Linked DNA regions of Homo sapiens. The protein of the gene in region 2 purifies or fractionates together with the protein of the main gene of each other region. This does not show direct contact. Each region holds a gene or a part of one and is shown on either strand. Other genes may lie near its edges.

The links.
Region 1: the proteins of FIBP (region 2) and C2CD5 purify together in Homo sapiens (affinity purification with mass spectrometry; 5 studies listed by BioGRID and IntAct, with this or other methods). This does not show direct contact.

What each region holds. Positions count from the first base shown.
Region 1 is NC_000012.12:22,534,543-22,541,825, forward strand, and holds part of C2CD5 (C2 domain-containing protein 5), read right to left. Parts: intron 803-7,283; coding exon 716-802; intron 1-715. UniProt on the Homo sapiens protein: Required for insulin-stimulated glucose transport and glucose transporter SLC2A4/GLUT4 translocation from intracellular glucose storage vesicle (GSV) to the plasma membrane (PM) in adipocytes.
Region 2 is NC_000011.10:65,885,472-65,893,096, forward strand, and holds the start of FIBP (acidic fibroblast growth factor intracellular-binding protein), read right to left. Parts: upstream 3,001-7,625; 5' UTR 2,948-3,000; coding exon 2,863-2,947; intron 2,662-2,862; coding exon 2,463-2,661; intron 2,256-2,462; coding exon 2,129-2,255; intron 952-2,128; coding exon 851-951; intron 193-850; coding exon 59-192; coding exon of another isoform or gene 38-58; intron 1-37. Other genes in the region: CCDC85B (coiled-coil domain-containing protein 85B), read left to right, coding at 5,313-5,921; FOSL1 (fos-related antigen 1), read right to left, coding at 7,415-7,625. UniProt on the Homo sapiens protein: May be involved in mitogenic function of FGF1. May mediate with IER2 FGF-signaling in the establishment of laterality in the embryo.

The DNA of each region.
Region 1 (7,283 bases), on a different chromosome or scaffold from region 2:
AGAAAATAAAATGTGGCATACACATACAATGGGTTATTATTCAGCCATAAGAAGGAATAAAATTCTGATACATGTTACAGTGTGGATGAACCCTGAAAACATTATGCTGAGTAAAAGAAAGCAGATACAACAGGACAAGTATTATATGACTCCATTTATATGAAATATCTAGCATAAGCAAATTCAAAGAGACAGAAAGTAGATTAGAGGTCACCAGAGTCTAGGGAGAGGAGGGAATGGGAAGTTATTGGTTAGTGAGTACACAATTTCCATTTAGGATAAAGAAAAAGTTCTGGAAATAGCGGTGATGGTAGCAAAACACTGTGAATGTAATTAATGCTACCAAACTGTACACTTACAAATGATTTAAATGGCAATATTCACAATATATAGTACTACAATTTTTAAAAATTTATTTTAATCCATATATTATTCTTAAGTAATTTTTGGTATGTGCTAAAATCTAGAGAAAACTACAATAATAATAATATAATACATCTGAAGACTTCTTTTGTTAATGTGTTATCATATACTGTATTTTCTTAAATGTAATACAACTTTTTTTAGACTCAATATTCCTAGGTAAGCAGAAAAGAAAATATTTTTGTGATGTAGAAATACTACTATGCCTGAAATAAAAGGTTCTCATTATTCCTGAGGGAAAAGAGTCACCTCAAAAAAATACACTCAAAAATGCTGACATTTAAAAACTTACCTCAAATTTAAACCACTCCGAGTTCCACTGAGGGTTGAGTGACTTAAGGTACACATCTGTTTTAAAGGTGGTATTACCAAATTTTACCTAAAAACAAATAAGAAATTATTCACATATGAATATCAAAAATGTGAATAAAAGTAAATTTTAATGTCAGCCAACCAATAGAAGGATAAACCATAAAGGGGACAAAAGACTATTATCCTCTGGGACAAAGGGAAGAAGGTACAGATGGATCCAGGTAAGATTGTAGACTAATAATAATACCCACAACAAGCAATCACCCATTGCTCTGCTTGACCAGCTCCACACATCACAAAGAACTAACTTCCTCCGTTTCTAAAGAGCATATAGAGAGCAATAAAAGATCAACAACCCAATAGAAAAAATAGGCAAAGGATATGATCAGGTAAGTCACAGAAATGGAAATACAGCTGTCTTTAACCACATCAAAAGATGATCAACCTCATTCATACTAAGAGAAATGCAAACTAAAATATTTTTACTTATCAGGCTGGCAAAGACCAAAAGATTTGAAAACAGAATTGGTGCGGTACTGTCATGCTTTGCTGGTAGGAGTTGTAGAACAATCTCTACAGAGACTTTGAAAACACATCAAAATTTTAAATGCCTTAAATCCCTTTTAAGCTAGCAATTCTACTTCTTAGAATTTATCCCACAGAGGTACACAATGGCATATATCAGCAGCATTACTGTAGCAAAAGCTTGGAAACAAGTTAAATATCTGTCAATATGGAACTAATTAAATTTATGGTAAAGCAACACAATGTAGCACTAAATAGAATAAAGCAGTTCTCCATGCACTGGTAAGGAACAACTTCCAAGATACATCTTTCTACTGCAGATATATGGCATTCTTCAGCACAAAAAAAAAAAAGACAGAATTCATATAATAGTTATATGTCTGTATATGCGCACATTATTTCTAGAAGTATATACAAGAAATAGTAACAATGGCCACTACAAACAGCAGAAGAGGTTGGTTAAAGGAGAGGCTGTGAAAGAGAAGCTGACTCACTTTGTACCTTTTGAATTTTGAACCATGCATAATACTACCTATTTTAAATGCATTATTTTAAAATTCAAAAACATCAAAAATTAAAATAAAAATGGCAATAACTTTATTTTCATTCAAATTACAGAATCCTAGGTTTGCTACCAGGAATTTAACCTACAGAAGTACTTTCACATAAGCCCTCCCCACCAAAAATATAGTCATTCAGCAGGAAAGTGACTGAACAAATCATGTGCCCTATAAATAATGGAGTCGACTATATGTACTGTCACTAGAAGATATTACACAATAACTGAAAAAACAAGTAGCAGAATATATAAAGTATGATTATATTTGTTTCTAAAAATGTGATATAGATATACAAGTATTTGTTAAGAGGATGAAGAATAGATTAACATAAGCCAAAGAACTGACAGCAATTATCTCTGAAGAAGGGACTGATAGGGTGTAGGAAATAGAGTACAGTGGTGTAAGAAGAAAGTAAGGGGTTTTCGAGTTATATTTGAGTGTTTCAATCTTTTTTAATGGGGAGCATTCAAGTATTACTTGCATAATTTTTTTAATCACAATGATAAAGAAATGAAACTTAATGAGGAAAAAGGAAGAATAGAGGTTCTTGTTTAATTACTAATTTAATTTTCATTCCATTTAAATATTCAAGGCATGATGGAAATACTTATTGTTTAATTTATCTAAAGCTGCTTTATATGAAGTAAAATACTGTTAGGATTTATAAAAACATTCAAAATCATTCAAAAGCAATATACTTAAGGGTTTTGGCTCAACTGCCAAAAGTAGTACATGATTTTTTAAGTGACAAGTTTAGAGCACTCTACAGTTTTGTCCCACTATAACAGTTGTGCTATACTGTGCCTTTTTGTTGTTGTGCAACTGTTCATTCTAAATAAAGATCCGATAGTCCACAAACTGCTTTAAACAAACAAAAAAGACTTTAGAAAAAAGGAAAAGTCATCAGCCAGGCAGGGTGGTGCGTGCCTGGAGTCCCTGCTACTCAAGAAGCTAAGGCAAGAGGAGCTTGAAGCCAGGAGTTCAAGGCTGCTGCATTCAGGCCTGGGCAACAGAGCAAGACCCAGTCTTTCAAACAAGAAAACAAATAAAGGACAAGAAACAAAAAGAAAAAGGCTGGAGTGTGTATTTTGCCAACATTGGATGATTTCCACTCTAGTACAGAAGAATCTCGGTTCACTTAGTCTTAATTTAATTAAAAGGACATTTTATTACTCAGCAATTAAATGAATGCCTTATAACTCTGTTAAAGAACATCAGGGATTTTAATGGAGATTTCCCCCAGTAAAGTAAAGCATTCTCTTTACCTACTCATTAGCTAAATTACCTTGAGAAAGTTATTAACCTGTTATTTAAATTGGCTTCCTCCTCTGAAAAGTGGGATTGTAAGTGAGCATTACATGATATAACACATGTAGAGACCTAGCAAAATGTCTGCACATAGGAAATATTCATTAAATATTTACTTTCCTCTCCCTGTTCCCTCAAAGGTTCCTAGAAAAACACAAGATGACAATGTAGTTTAGCCAAACAATTGGTAACACACATTAACATTCAGATATATTTCCATTAATACTTCGCTTGTACAGAACCCCATCTTACTCTAGAGATTCCTGCAAGACTACTCGTCTTGAAGAATTATTTGGTCTTCACTGGGTCCCTACACTCCTGACGTCATATATAGTGGAAATTCTCTCAATCAATGCAACCAGGACCAATACTTGATCAGTTAATCAAATAACTTGGTTAAATTAGAGGATCACTAAAAATAATACAAACTGTAAACATTTTAAGATAAAACATATAAACAAACATTCATTCCTGTCTTTTAATGTAAGGCTAAGACCTCTTCTTTGTGTAAAAGTCAACTGTTTAGTCATCTTTTTTTGCATAAGCCACATTCATCTCTGATTTCCAGTTTGGGTTGCTTTAAAAAGTACGAACAAAGAATCCTCTATTTTTTACAGTCTTTTCTCCACCTAATTCAAGAGCTATTTTTAGTAACCATTTCCATGTCTTTACATTCACTCATTTATATAAGGTTTAAATAAAATATAGTAAGAAATACAGTTGACATAAGCAGATTTGGGAATAAACACAACTGCCTCTTGGTAAAGTATATCAGCCAACTGATGGGAAACTCCAGACACACTGGAGAGTAGTCTTACCCAGAGGAGTATTTACGAATACGCTTTATGGAAGGATGCAGAACGCTGAGGATTGCAATGAGTCACTTAACGGAGGTTGTTAAGACAGCTTCAACTGTATTGACCTCTCCTCCTAATTTTTGGACTACTCAGTAATCTGTATCCCCCTTTCCTAGCCAGATTTATTTCCCACTTCTATTCAACAAGAATCTTCCTTTCAATCACATATGAATGAAATTCATTCAATTGAAATACATTCAATTACATCAATACATACTCTGTTCTTTTGCTTTTATCAAGTTTGTCCTAGTCACCTGAAAATTTTTTCTTCCTTTTTCTCTCTGCCTTTGTAAATTTTACCATCCTCCAGGCCCAGGATAAAGGTTTCTCATGACAAGCCCACGCTTCATTATCTCCCTCTTCTATGAACTTAAGTCTGTATCAAGCATTTATCCCTTTATTATATTGTAATCCTTCATTATCCCCCTTTTCCTGCATTAATTTTTCCCCTTTCTACTGGATTATTCCTATTAGCACACAAATAGGTTCTGTATCTTTTCATTTATTTTTTAAGTACTAAAACTACTTCTCAAACACCACAGTATTTTTCCTCCCCCCTTCATAGCCATACATCTTGAAACAGTTGCCTATTCATACTCTTTCTACTTCCTCACTTCCCATGTACTTTCTCTTTAAATCACTACAGGATGGGATTCCACCCTCATCATGCCTCTTGTCACAACCCCCATGTTGTCCAATCCAATAATTTTTCTGTCTTCTTACTTGACCTCAGTGACATCTGACAATTGAGCTTCCTTCCTCTTTCTAGAAACTTCCTCTCTTGCCTTCTAAGACATTATGTTCCCCATTTTTCTCCCACCCACTGGCTCACAATCTCAGTTTCCTTCCTCTAGTCCTCCTCTTCTAATAAACCTCTTAATATCAAGTTTTTTCAAGGATTCATCCTGTTTCTCTCCCTTCCCCTAAGTCACAGGTTTGCAAAAAAGACAGAACCAACTCCTAAAGCTTTGCAAAAAAGACAGAACCAACTCCAACTCCTAAAGAAGCTTTAGACATTTCTAGCAGTGGTTTTGGGGAAAATAGTAATTGCATTAAGTGAGGAAGGGCCAGAGATGCCAGGTATTCTTCAATGCAAGAGAGTTCCCAACAATGAAGACTTTTACCATGTCATGATTTTCAAATGTGCCACTAGATAATCACATGGGTAAGAAACCTACCTAGAAGACCAGGTGTGGTGGCTCATGCCTGTAATCCCCGCACTTTGGGAGGCCAATGTGGGTGGATCACCTGAGGTCAGGTGTTCAAGACCAGTCTGGGCAACATGGTGAAACCCTGTCTCTACAAAAATACAAAAAATTAGCCAGGCATGGTGGTGCACTGGTAGTCCCAGCTACTCAGGAGGCTGAGGCAGGAGAATCGCTTGAACCTGAGAGGCAGAGTTTACAGTGAGCTGAGATCACGCCATTGCACTCCAACCTGGGCAACAAGAGCGAAGCTCCGTCTCAAAAAAAAAAAAAAAAAAGAGAAAAAAAACCCTACCTAGAACCTCAGTTTTACAGATAGAAGTATTACAATCGGGTTTCAATGTACATAATTGTCAAGAACTACAACCATCATGTAAATCAAGAGGCAACTCTGCTTTTTCCCATGAGTTGACTATTTTGAAAAATCAGATAACCAATGGCAATGAAGATCTGAGATGCCAAAACTACACAACTGTCTCACTCTGTTTGAGAAGCAGTCACATTCACGTGGTTTTAACATAGGCGAGGCACTCCCTATTCTGTGTCCCAGCTTTATTTTCTCCATATATTATTCTTAAGTAATTTTTGGTATATGCTAAAATCTAGAGAAAACTAGACCATCCAGCATACTGTATCTTTTACTTACTTACCTTATTTATGAACTCTCTCCTCCCACTAAAATGTAAGTTCCGTGAATGAAGTTTTTTTAAATTTATTGCTATATCCCCAGCATCCAGTACAGTGTCTAATACATACAAAGGCTGAATTCATTGATTCATCTGATTACTTCATGTTTTCTATTATGGTCATGAAAAAGTACTTCCATATTAAAATAATAACAACAGGCCAGGCGCGGTGGCTCACATCTGTAATCCCAGCACTTTGGGAGACCAAGGCAGGTGGATCACCTGAGGTCAGGAGTTCAAGACCAGCCTGGCCAACATGGCGAAACCCCGTCGCTACTAAAAATACAAAAATTAGCTGGGCGCGGAGGCAAGCACCTGTAATCCCAGCTACTCTGGAGGCTGAGGCAGGACAATCGCTTGAACCCAGGTGACGGAAGTTGCAGTGAGCCAAGATCGTGCCACTACACTCCAGCCTGGGTGAAAGAGCAAGACTCTATCTCAAAAAAATAATAATGATAACAACAAAAACAAATACTTCTATTTGTTATAGTTAAACCGTGGTACTGATTTTTTAATTGTAAGGATATATTAACTAAAAAATATCATGCCAGGATAGAAAGGGTAGATTCCAAAATACCAGCTATCTAAAGGGAGTCCTGGGTCTCACAGTTGAGAAACACTGGCTTGTGTGCTCATTTTTAACTCAGACCTCTTTTTTTTGAATGCCATAGTCATAAATCACTTCCTTAACATCTCCAATTAAAGACCCTAAAGACATCACAAACCTAACATGCTCAAATGGAAAATGATCCTCCTCAATCTTTACCATCCCCCTGGAGTATCAGAAAACCCAATACTTCAGAAAGCTAGGAGTCATCTTTTAATCTATCTTCAAAATATACCTGGAATTCATCCACTTGTCCGCATTACCAAATCCATCACCTTGGATAACATTACCTGTTATTTGAACTATTATAGAATCTCCTAACTGCCTGATTTCTACTCTTTCCCCTTCAATCCATTCTCCATATAACAGTGCTCATCTTAACAAGGGCTTCTCAATGAATTTAGGGTAAAATTCAAACTCTTAATCATGGCCTTAGTCCTTGCAAGACTGGTTCTTTGATTAACTCTCCAACTTTATCTTATACTACTCTTCCCTTCACTGACTACGTGCCAGCCACACGCATTTTCCTTCACTTCTTAAAACACACCAAATCTCTACATGAGATCTCCGGGTTACCTTCTGTCCACCCACTCCCCTACACACACAAATATGCTCCCTCAGCAGCAGGCTCCTTCTCATCCAGCAGATCTTGGTTTTGACAAACACTTTTCTCAGGGGCCTCCCCTGATTACTCAACCTAAAGTAGGTGTTCCCTGTTGTTCTCTTTCTATTGTTCCCTTTCATGGCACCCATCCCAACTTGTAACTATATATTTAATAATTTATTTACCTTTTAAACAT
Region 2 (7,625 bases):
GGAATCAGGTCCTGAGGATGGGGAGGCGTCCAGGCACCTGGGTCAGTGGGGGCCTCACCGACGGCTCCAAGGGTCCAGTTTTGGATCATGAGCTCAGCGCAGAAGGCAAAGTCACCGAAGCTCAGATACTGCAGTTTTTTCTTCCCTGTCTCAAAGCGGTTGTTAGCAAAGAAGACGATGGCTGCATAGTCCCTGCACAGACGAGAGGAGGGTCCTCTTAGGGCTTGAAATTCCTTCTTAGGAAGCAGCTCCCACCTGCAACCTCAGCTGGGTGTCCGAGTTCTGGCCTCTCTCTGCCTCAAGTCACTGTGTGACGTGTCTCAAGTCACTTCTCTATGACCCTTCCCCATCTGTGCGAAGAGAAGGTTCCAGCTCAAGTTTACTAGTGGATACAGTGGGAGACCATAAGGGTAACAGTTACTATCTACTGAGCACTTCCTAAGTGCCAGGGCTGTGCCATGGGCTTTACATATGGTACCTCTCAACAGCCCAGCTGGAAATCGCTGGACTGTGCTTTGAATCCAGGTCAGTCTGGTCCAAAGTACAGACCAAGCTGGGTGCGGTGGCTCAAGCCTGTAATCCCAGCTACTCGGGAGGCTGAGGCAGAATTGCTTGAACCAGGAGGCAGAGGTTGCAGTGAGCCAAGATTGCACCATTGCATTCCAGCCTGGGCAACAAGAGTGAAACTCCGTCTCATTAAAAAAAAAAAAAAAAAAAAAGTACAGACCAAAAGTGGGATAATCATTCCCCCAGCATACTCAGGAGGTCAGAAGGTTTGGGGTAGGGAAGGTGGACGAGCCTCCGGGCCCAGGAAGTAGTGTGCGGGATGGGGAGGTGGCTAGCTCCTCACCTGGCCAACCGGTCAGAGAGGAGGAAGTGTTGCTGAATATTGTCCACCAGGGAGCCCCGCATTTCCTCTACCACCTTGAAGACCCGTTTAAAGTTGTCAAACTGCAGGGCAGTTAGGGTAGAAGAGAGGACTGGTCAGAGTGTACACTGTGTCGCTCACCCAATAAACCACTTATTGAACATCTCTCCCTTCCCCATCCACCTATCCAGTCAGCAGATGCTGATTTAGCATTTGTTATTCCTTCAACCAACTATTAGTTATTAGTACTTGTTATCAAATCAAATGCTTAGCAACTCCTGCTGTATCTTGCCTTGGATAAATGTTTACTCAATCTTATCTCTAAATCCAACCCCATTTTAGCACCATGCTCTCCAGATCTTCACAAGTTTGAGTTGGAAGAGACTTTCCTGGCTAAGCCCTAGAAACTAAAAAATAAAAAACAAATGCTAAGCTATAAACAGAAAGCTCACAGGAGATACAAAAGAAAGGCATCAAAGACCCAGAAGGGTTACTTCTTCCTGGCGTACCAAAAAGGCTTGTGGAGAAGGTGGCATCTCACCTCTTGTCTTGGATTTCAAGGGGTAGATATTGCCAAGAACAGTACCCTCCAGGTAGAAGCAACATGAGTAAAGGAAAGCCTGGGGCTGGAGAAATGTAAGCCTAGAGAGGTCTGCAGGGATGAGATAACAGGACAGTCCATAGGTCAAAGCCAAGGAGTGCAGCTGCTACCCAGGAGGCAGTGGGAGCCAATGAAAGTTTATCAGGGGTCTGATAAAATTTCAGGTCATTCTGAAAGGTCACTCTGGCCATACAGTACAGGATAGCTTGGAAGGCACAACAGGGAGCCAGGCACGGTGGCTCACGCCTGTAATGTCAGCACTTTGGGAGGCCGAGGCGGATGATCACTTGAGGCCAGGAGTTCAAGACAAGCCTGGCCAACATGGTGAAACCCTGTCTCTACTAACAATACAAAAATTAGCTGGGTGTGGGAGCGGGCGCCTGTAATCTCAGCTACTGCAGAGGCTGAGGCACAAGAATTACCTGAACCCAGGAGGCGGAGGTTGCAGTGAGCTGAGGTCGCGCCACTGCACTCCAGCTTGGGCCACAGAGCAAGACTCCATCTCGAAAAAAAAAAAAAAAAAGGAGGGGAAAGGGGAAGGGAGGAGAAGACTAGGTATGAAGCTGCTGCCACAATCAGAGGCTGGAACTGGGCCAGTGGCCAAAGGGAGGGAGTGAAGTGTAGATGGGATGCTGTGTCCGTGTGGATGCAGTGCATACCTGTCTCCGGCAGCTCTTGAGGGTGATGCCTGTTTTGGTGCTGATGTCATCCAGGTCTTTCTTGGTGCCTTTGGACAGCTTCTTGCCCAGCACCTCCCGAACAAAGGCCTCATCAAAGGCATAGTACCTTGTGGAGTCAGAGAACACCATTGACCCTCCATAAAAGACAGGAAAGGGAGTCTGGCGGGGCCTAGCAGGGCCTAGGTCTGACCCCTTCCACTCTCAACTTTCTGATGGCTGGGTAAATCCCATCCCTCCCTGGGCCTGTTTCAGCCGGCAAAATGGGTATACAGTCAGACTGGTTGATGTCTCCACCATCCCAGAGGGTGAGCACCTCTCGATGAGTAGTGCCTGCCGGGAGGGCGGAATCTGGAAGATGAGCTGGTGCAGTAGCTTGGGCGGCGCATGCAGCAGCCGCTCGAGCATGTGGAAGGTGCGGTAATGGTCCATGGTGTCGCTCTGCAGCACCGCTGCCGTGGCGCCAGTCTGCTCCAGGATTCCCGAGCGCACCCGCAGGGCCACCGCGTCGGTCACTGGAAAGCGGACGCTAGCATCAGGCCCCGCCCCGCCGACGCCAGAGGCCCTTAAGGGTTTCCATCCCAGACCCCTATAACACCTCTTATTCCCAGGCGCTCGCCCACTTCCCTAAAGGATGCCCAAGTCTTAGCCCCGCCCCCTCTCCCATTCAACACAACCGCTCCGCCGACTGGCTTCCCCACACGCCCCTCACGGACCCGAGTAACCATCGAGCCAGAGGCGATACACGTCCTCGTCGATAAGGGTCGTGTTCCCCACGAAGATGTCCAGCTCACTGGTCATGGCGACGCCCGGGGCCGCAGCGCCCCGAGCAGGAGCGAGCACTGCTCGGGACTGGCGCGCCGCCTTCAGGCCACTTCCGGGAGCGCCGAGATTCCGCTCGCGGCATCGGGACCCAGCTTATGACCACTTCCGGGACACAGCCAGTCGGGGAGGGGACGGGGCGGGAGCGGCGAGGGAAGAGAGGGGGAGGCCTGCGCGGAGGAGCACCGCTTCCTCCCGCCGGGAGGGGGAGTCCCGGGCTCCTGCGTCCTGTCTCCCTCCCCGGCCGTCTGCAGGAGCACGAAGGGAGTGCCTCCTCTTCGTCTCCTCGGTCCCCGTAACTTCTCCCCTCACTTCCTCCTGGCTTTTCTCCCACCTTCTCTGCCCTCTTCGGGACCTCCTAAGTTTGACCTGTATCCTAAACTTAGGGGTTTCACAGGGCTCTATCCTAAATCTCCGCAAAAATGGGGTATGACCCGACTTCCTCGGGCTCTTGCTGGAGACTGGTTTGTCCATCCTGCGCATGAGCACCTCTCCTGGGTTTGGGGCACCTGCTCCCACCTTGGTTTTAATCCCACCCCCAGCCCCACGAGCTACTGACGTCTCTAATTCTGCCCCTCCGAGCTCTGCCTGGAAGTCCACATCCGGAGGGGCCGCCTATCGGCCAAGTCTATCCACACTCTTCCCGTAAGCCCCTCAAAAGCTCAACATATTCTAGACAGACCTCTGCCTCTCCCCATTTGTTTCTTTCCTGCGTCCCTATCTCAGTGACAGCCCTAACATCCACCAGTTCTCATACGAGAAACCTGGGCGTTCTTCCAGACTCCTCTCTCCCCACATTCAGTTCGGCTGATTTGCCTCCCGAATATTTCTAGTATCTGTTTGTCCTCTCCACCCCCACTGATGCTGCCCCAGCCGTCTTTCTGCTTAGCTCTCCTTGCTCTTGCTCTTTGACACCGTTACTAATCTCCCTGTTTATGTCCCCTCCCCGCAGGGTCCGGCCCACACAGATCAGCCCAATCTTTTTAAATACATTTTTTTTTTCGAGACAGCGTCTCGCTCTGTCGCCCAGGCTGGAGTGCAGTGGCGCGATCTCGGCTCACTGCAACCTCCGCCTCCCGGGTTCAAGCAGTTCTCTGCCTCAGCCTCCCGAGTAGCTGAGATTACAGGCTCCTCCCACCACGCCCGGCTAATTTTTGTATTTTTAGTAGAAACGGGGTTTCACCATCTTGGCCAGTTAAAGGCATATTTTAAAATGTTACTCCCTTGCTTAACATCCTTACAAATGTTACTCTCTTGCTTAACATCCTTAGTGGCCTTTGGAAATGCTCCAACCTGGTACTGGAAGTTCTTAAGAATCTGGCTTTTACCTACCTTTGAAGCCTCGCTCTCTCTCTCTTAGCATTTTCTCGACACATCTGCTTTTCAAAAACCAAGCTATCCTCATTGTTCCTAAAGCAGCTAGGCTCTTTCGGGCACCAGTGTCTTTCACTATGTTATTCTCTCTCCCTGAAATAGCTCTTTACTTGGCAAAGTCCTATGGATCTACCAGAGCCTCTTGGATAGCATCTCTTTTGGGAACCCTCTTAAGGACCCTCAGACCATACTCCTCCCGGATTTATTTCTTGCTTAACACAGCTTGACTTCCCGGACAGACTGCGACCTCCTTGAGGATGGAATCGGTATTTTGGTTAAATTTATTTCTGCATGGGCCTTGCACATAAAAAACGTTTATTGAACAAACGAATCCTGTATGTTCCTCCCCCCAGGCAGGAAACGCTCCCTGGGAGGGAGGGTAGTCTATTGGTGAGCTAGGACGTTTGGACTCAGGGTTCCGAGGAACCAGGAGCGATCCTTAGTGGGCCGAGACTTCCGAATTTGATCAAAGGTAAAGAGGGACTGGAGAGCGGTCCATCTGACTTCTGTGGGGGATGGGCAGGAGTCAGGGGCGGACGCCTGAATCTTGTTTCTCAGAAGAGCCGAGAGGCCTAGGCTCAAGCTTGGGGCGATCCGGTACTTGGAGGTTCGAAGCTCCTAGTTTCGGGTTGAGACCGATGTGGAGGGCGATGACGCGCGGGTTCCTTGACATCGAGGATCAGTAACACCCGGAGTGGGTGGGGAACGAGGGGGGCGGCCCCTGAGCTCAGGCCCCGCCCCTTTCCGGGGACGTTTCACCGGATTGGCTGTCCTTCCATAACGACATGCGGCCCCGCCCCGGCGCGCGCCCCGCCGCGTGCCCAGCCCGGGTAGCTGCTGCAGCCTACGCTGCCTCGGCCACTGCCTGCCGCGTGCGGAGCCGGAGCCCGAGCCTGAGTGGCGCCGGGCCCGACGTGGGGCTCCTGGGCCGCGGCGGCGGGCGGGCGATGCTCCAGAGGCCTGACCAGCCATGGAGGCCGAGGCAGGCGGCCTGGAGGAGCTGACGGACGAGGAGATGGCGGCGCTAGGCAAGGAAGAGCTAGTGCGGCGCCTGCGGCGGGAGGAGGCGGCGCGCCTGGCGGCACTGGTGCAGCGCGGCCGCCTCATGCAGGAGGTGAATCGGCAGCTGCAGGGCCACCTGGGCGAGATCCGCGAGCTCAAGCAGCTCAACCGGCGTCTGCAGGCAGAGAACCGTGAGCTGCGCGACCTCTGCTGCTTCCTGGACTCGGAGCGCCAGCGCGGGCGGCGCGCCGCACGCCAGTGGCAGCTCTTCGGGACCCAAGCATCCCGGGCCGTGCGCGAGGACCTGGGCGGCTGTTGGCAGAAGCTGGCCGAGCTGGAGGGCCGCCAGGAGGAGCTGCTGCGGGAGAACCTAGCGCTTAAGGAGCTCTGCCTGGCGCTGGGCGAAGAATGGGGCCCCCGCGGCGGCCCCAGCGGCGCCGGGGGATCAGGAGCCGGGCCAGCACCCGAGCTTGCCTTGCCCCCGTGCGGGCCCCGCGACCTAGGCGATGGAAGCTCCAGCACTGGCAGCGTGGGCAGTCCGGATCAGTTGCCCCTGGCCTGTTCCCCCGATGATTGAAGGCACTGCTTCCTCCACGCCGACGCCCGCCCGGATTGCTCCCCGAGCCCCGGGACCGCTGTGGACCTCGGGACCTGGACGCCGTCCTGGCTGCGCAGGAGGGGCCGCTGGCATGGACTAAGAAATCCTGACACCAAGAAGGGCCCCTCGCTCTTGCTGGCAGGGCAGCAGGGGGACTGAAGGCTGGAGCGGAGGGACTTGCTGGGGGTTGGATTGGGGGTAATAAACCCGGACGGAAGCGGAGCCCACGGCCTGGGCAGCGTCTGTTTGGTACTCGCCGGGGTTGGGGCGAGGGTGGGGTGCTGATACAGGGTACAATTCCCATCCAGAAGGACTGCAGAACTAATGATTCCCCCATTACTTCGAGCCTGGGGTGGGATGCGGGGCAGTGGTAAACCAGACTTCCCCCATCGGGCGCCGGGACCGGCCTTAATCCAGCCCCTGAAGTGGCTCCAGCTCCCTTCCCGGCTCCTTCCTGTCCAAGACAATGGGGCAGGAAGCAGGTGCTGGGGGCCTAGAACCACTCGGCCGCCTCCTCTGAGGCTGGAAGGGGGCATAACAGCGCCCCTCCGTGGCACACGCAGCAGCACTGTGGGCCCCCACGGGGAGAGGGGCGGTAAGCCTCTTCGCTTTTACCCCAGAGGACTGTCTCCCCTCAGTCCCGGAGATGAGGCCGAGCGGATGTAGCCCCACTTGTCAGATAAGACAAAGTCCAAAAATATCAAAGAATTTGTCCAAGGTCATGCAGTGAGTCTGTAGAGCTAAGGCTGGGACCTAGGGCTCCAAATACTCTCCCATTGGCCTCTGGGTCCAGTGAGGCACTCAGGCCACAGCTTCAAGCCTTTTATTCCATTTTGGTAGGTTTGTATAAAAATACTCTCTTTAGGAAAATAAATAGCAGCTGCCCTCGCTGTGGAGGCTTGGATTCCCTGGAGCTGAAGGCTTCTCAAAGCTGAGATCCGCAGATCAGCTCATCACAGAAGCCAAGGGCGCCTCCTGAGCTGTGCGGTTCAGGAGGGGGCGGCAGAATGGCCTGGTCCAATCACCTGCTGCTGCTGGCAGTGGGGCTGGTGAGTTAGTGTTCTAGGTGGGTAAAGTGGCACCTTCTGTCAGGAGATAGGGTTGGGTGGATCACAGGAAGAGGGTGATGGAGAGTGTGGCAGTGATCTGGAAGGGGTTAGGGCTCCAGAGGACCTCTAAGGATCTACAAAGTCTCTGGGCTGCCAGGATTCCTCTGGCACAAATGGGAAATATTTTGTCTCTGATTTAGTGCAAATTGTGCTAGAGAGGCCAGCTCAAGAGAAACAGTGGGCAGCTTTGGTGGCCCCAAGCTGGCTCTACTGTGAAGCACAATATGGTCAGTCTCATTAGAGGGATGGAGAAGAAGTTGCTGGAGTTGGATGTGGGATACTGTCCAGGCCAGCTGGACCGGTGGGGGAAGGGGAGGAGACATTGGCTAGGGTGGCATCTGCAGGGAGTAGGGCTCAGGCGCCTCACAAAGCGAGGAGGGTTGGAGAGCCAAGGGGGTCAGAGGATGGGTCTCCGCTGCTGCTGCTACTCTTGCGATGAGCTGAGGCACAAGGCTCAGGAGTGCTGGGGTAGGTGAAGACCAGGCTGGGGGTGAAAGGAGTTAGGGAGGGTGTGGTCATGAGTGTGGGGGTGTGCAGTGCCTCAGGTTCAAGCACAGGCCCTGGGGAAAGGGAG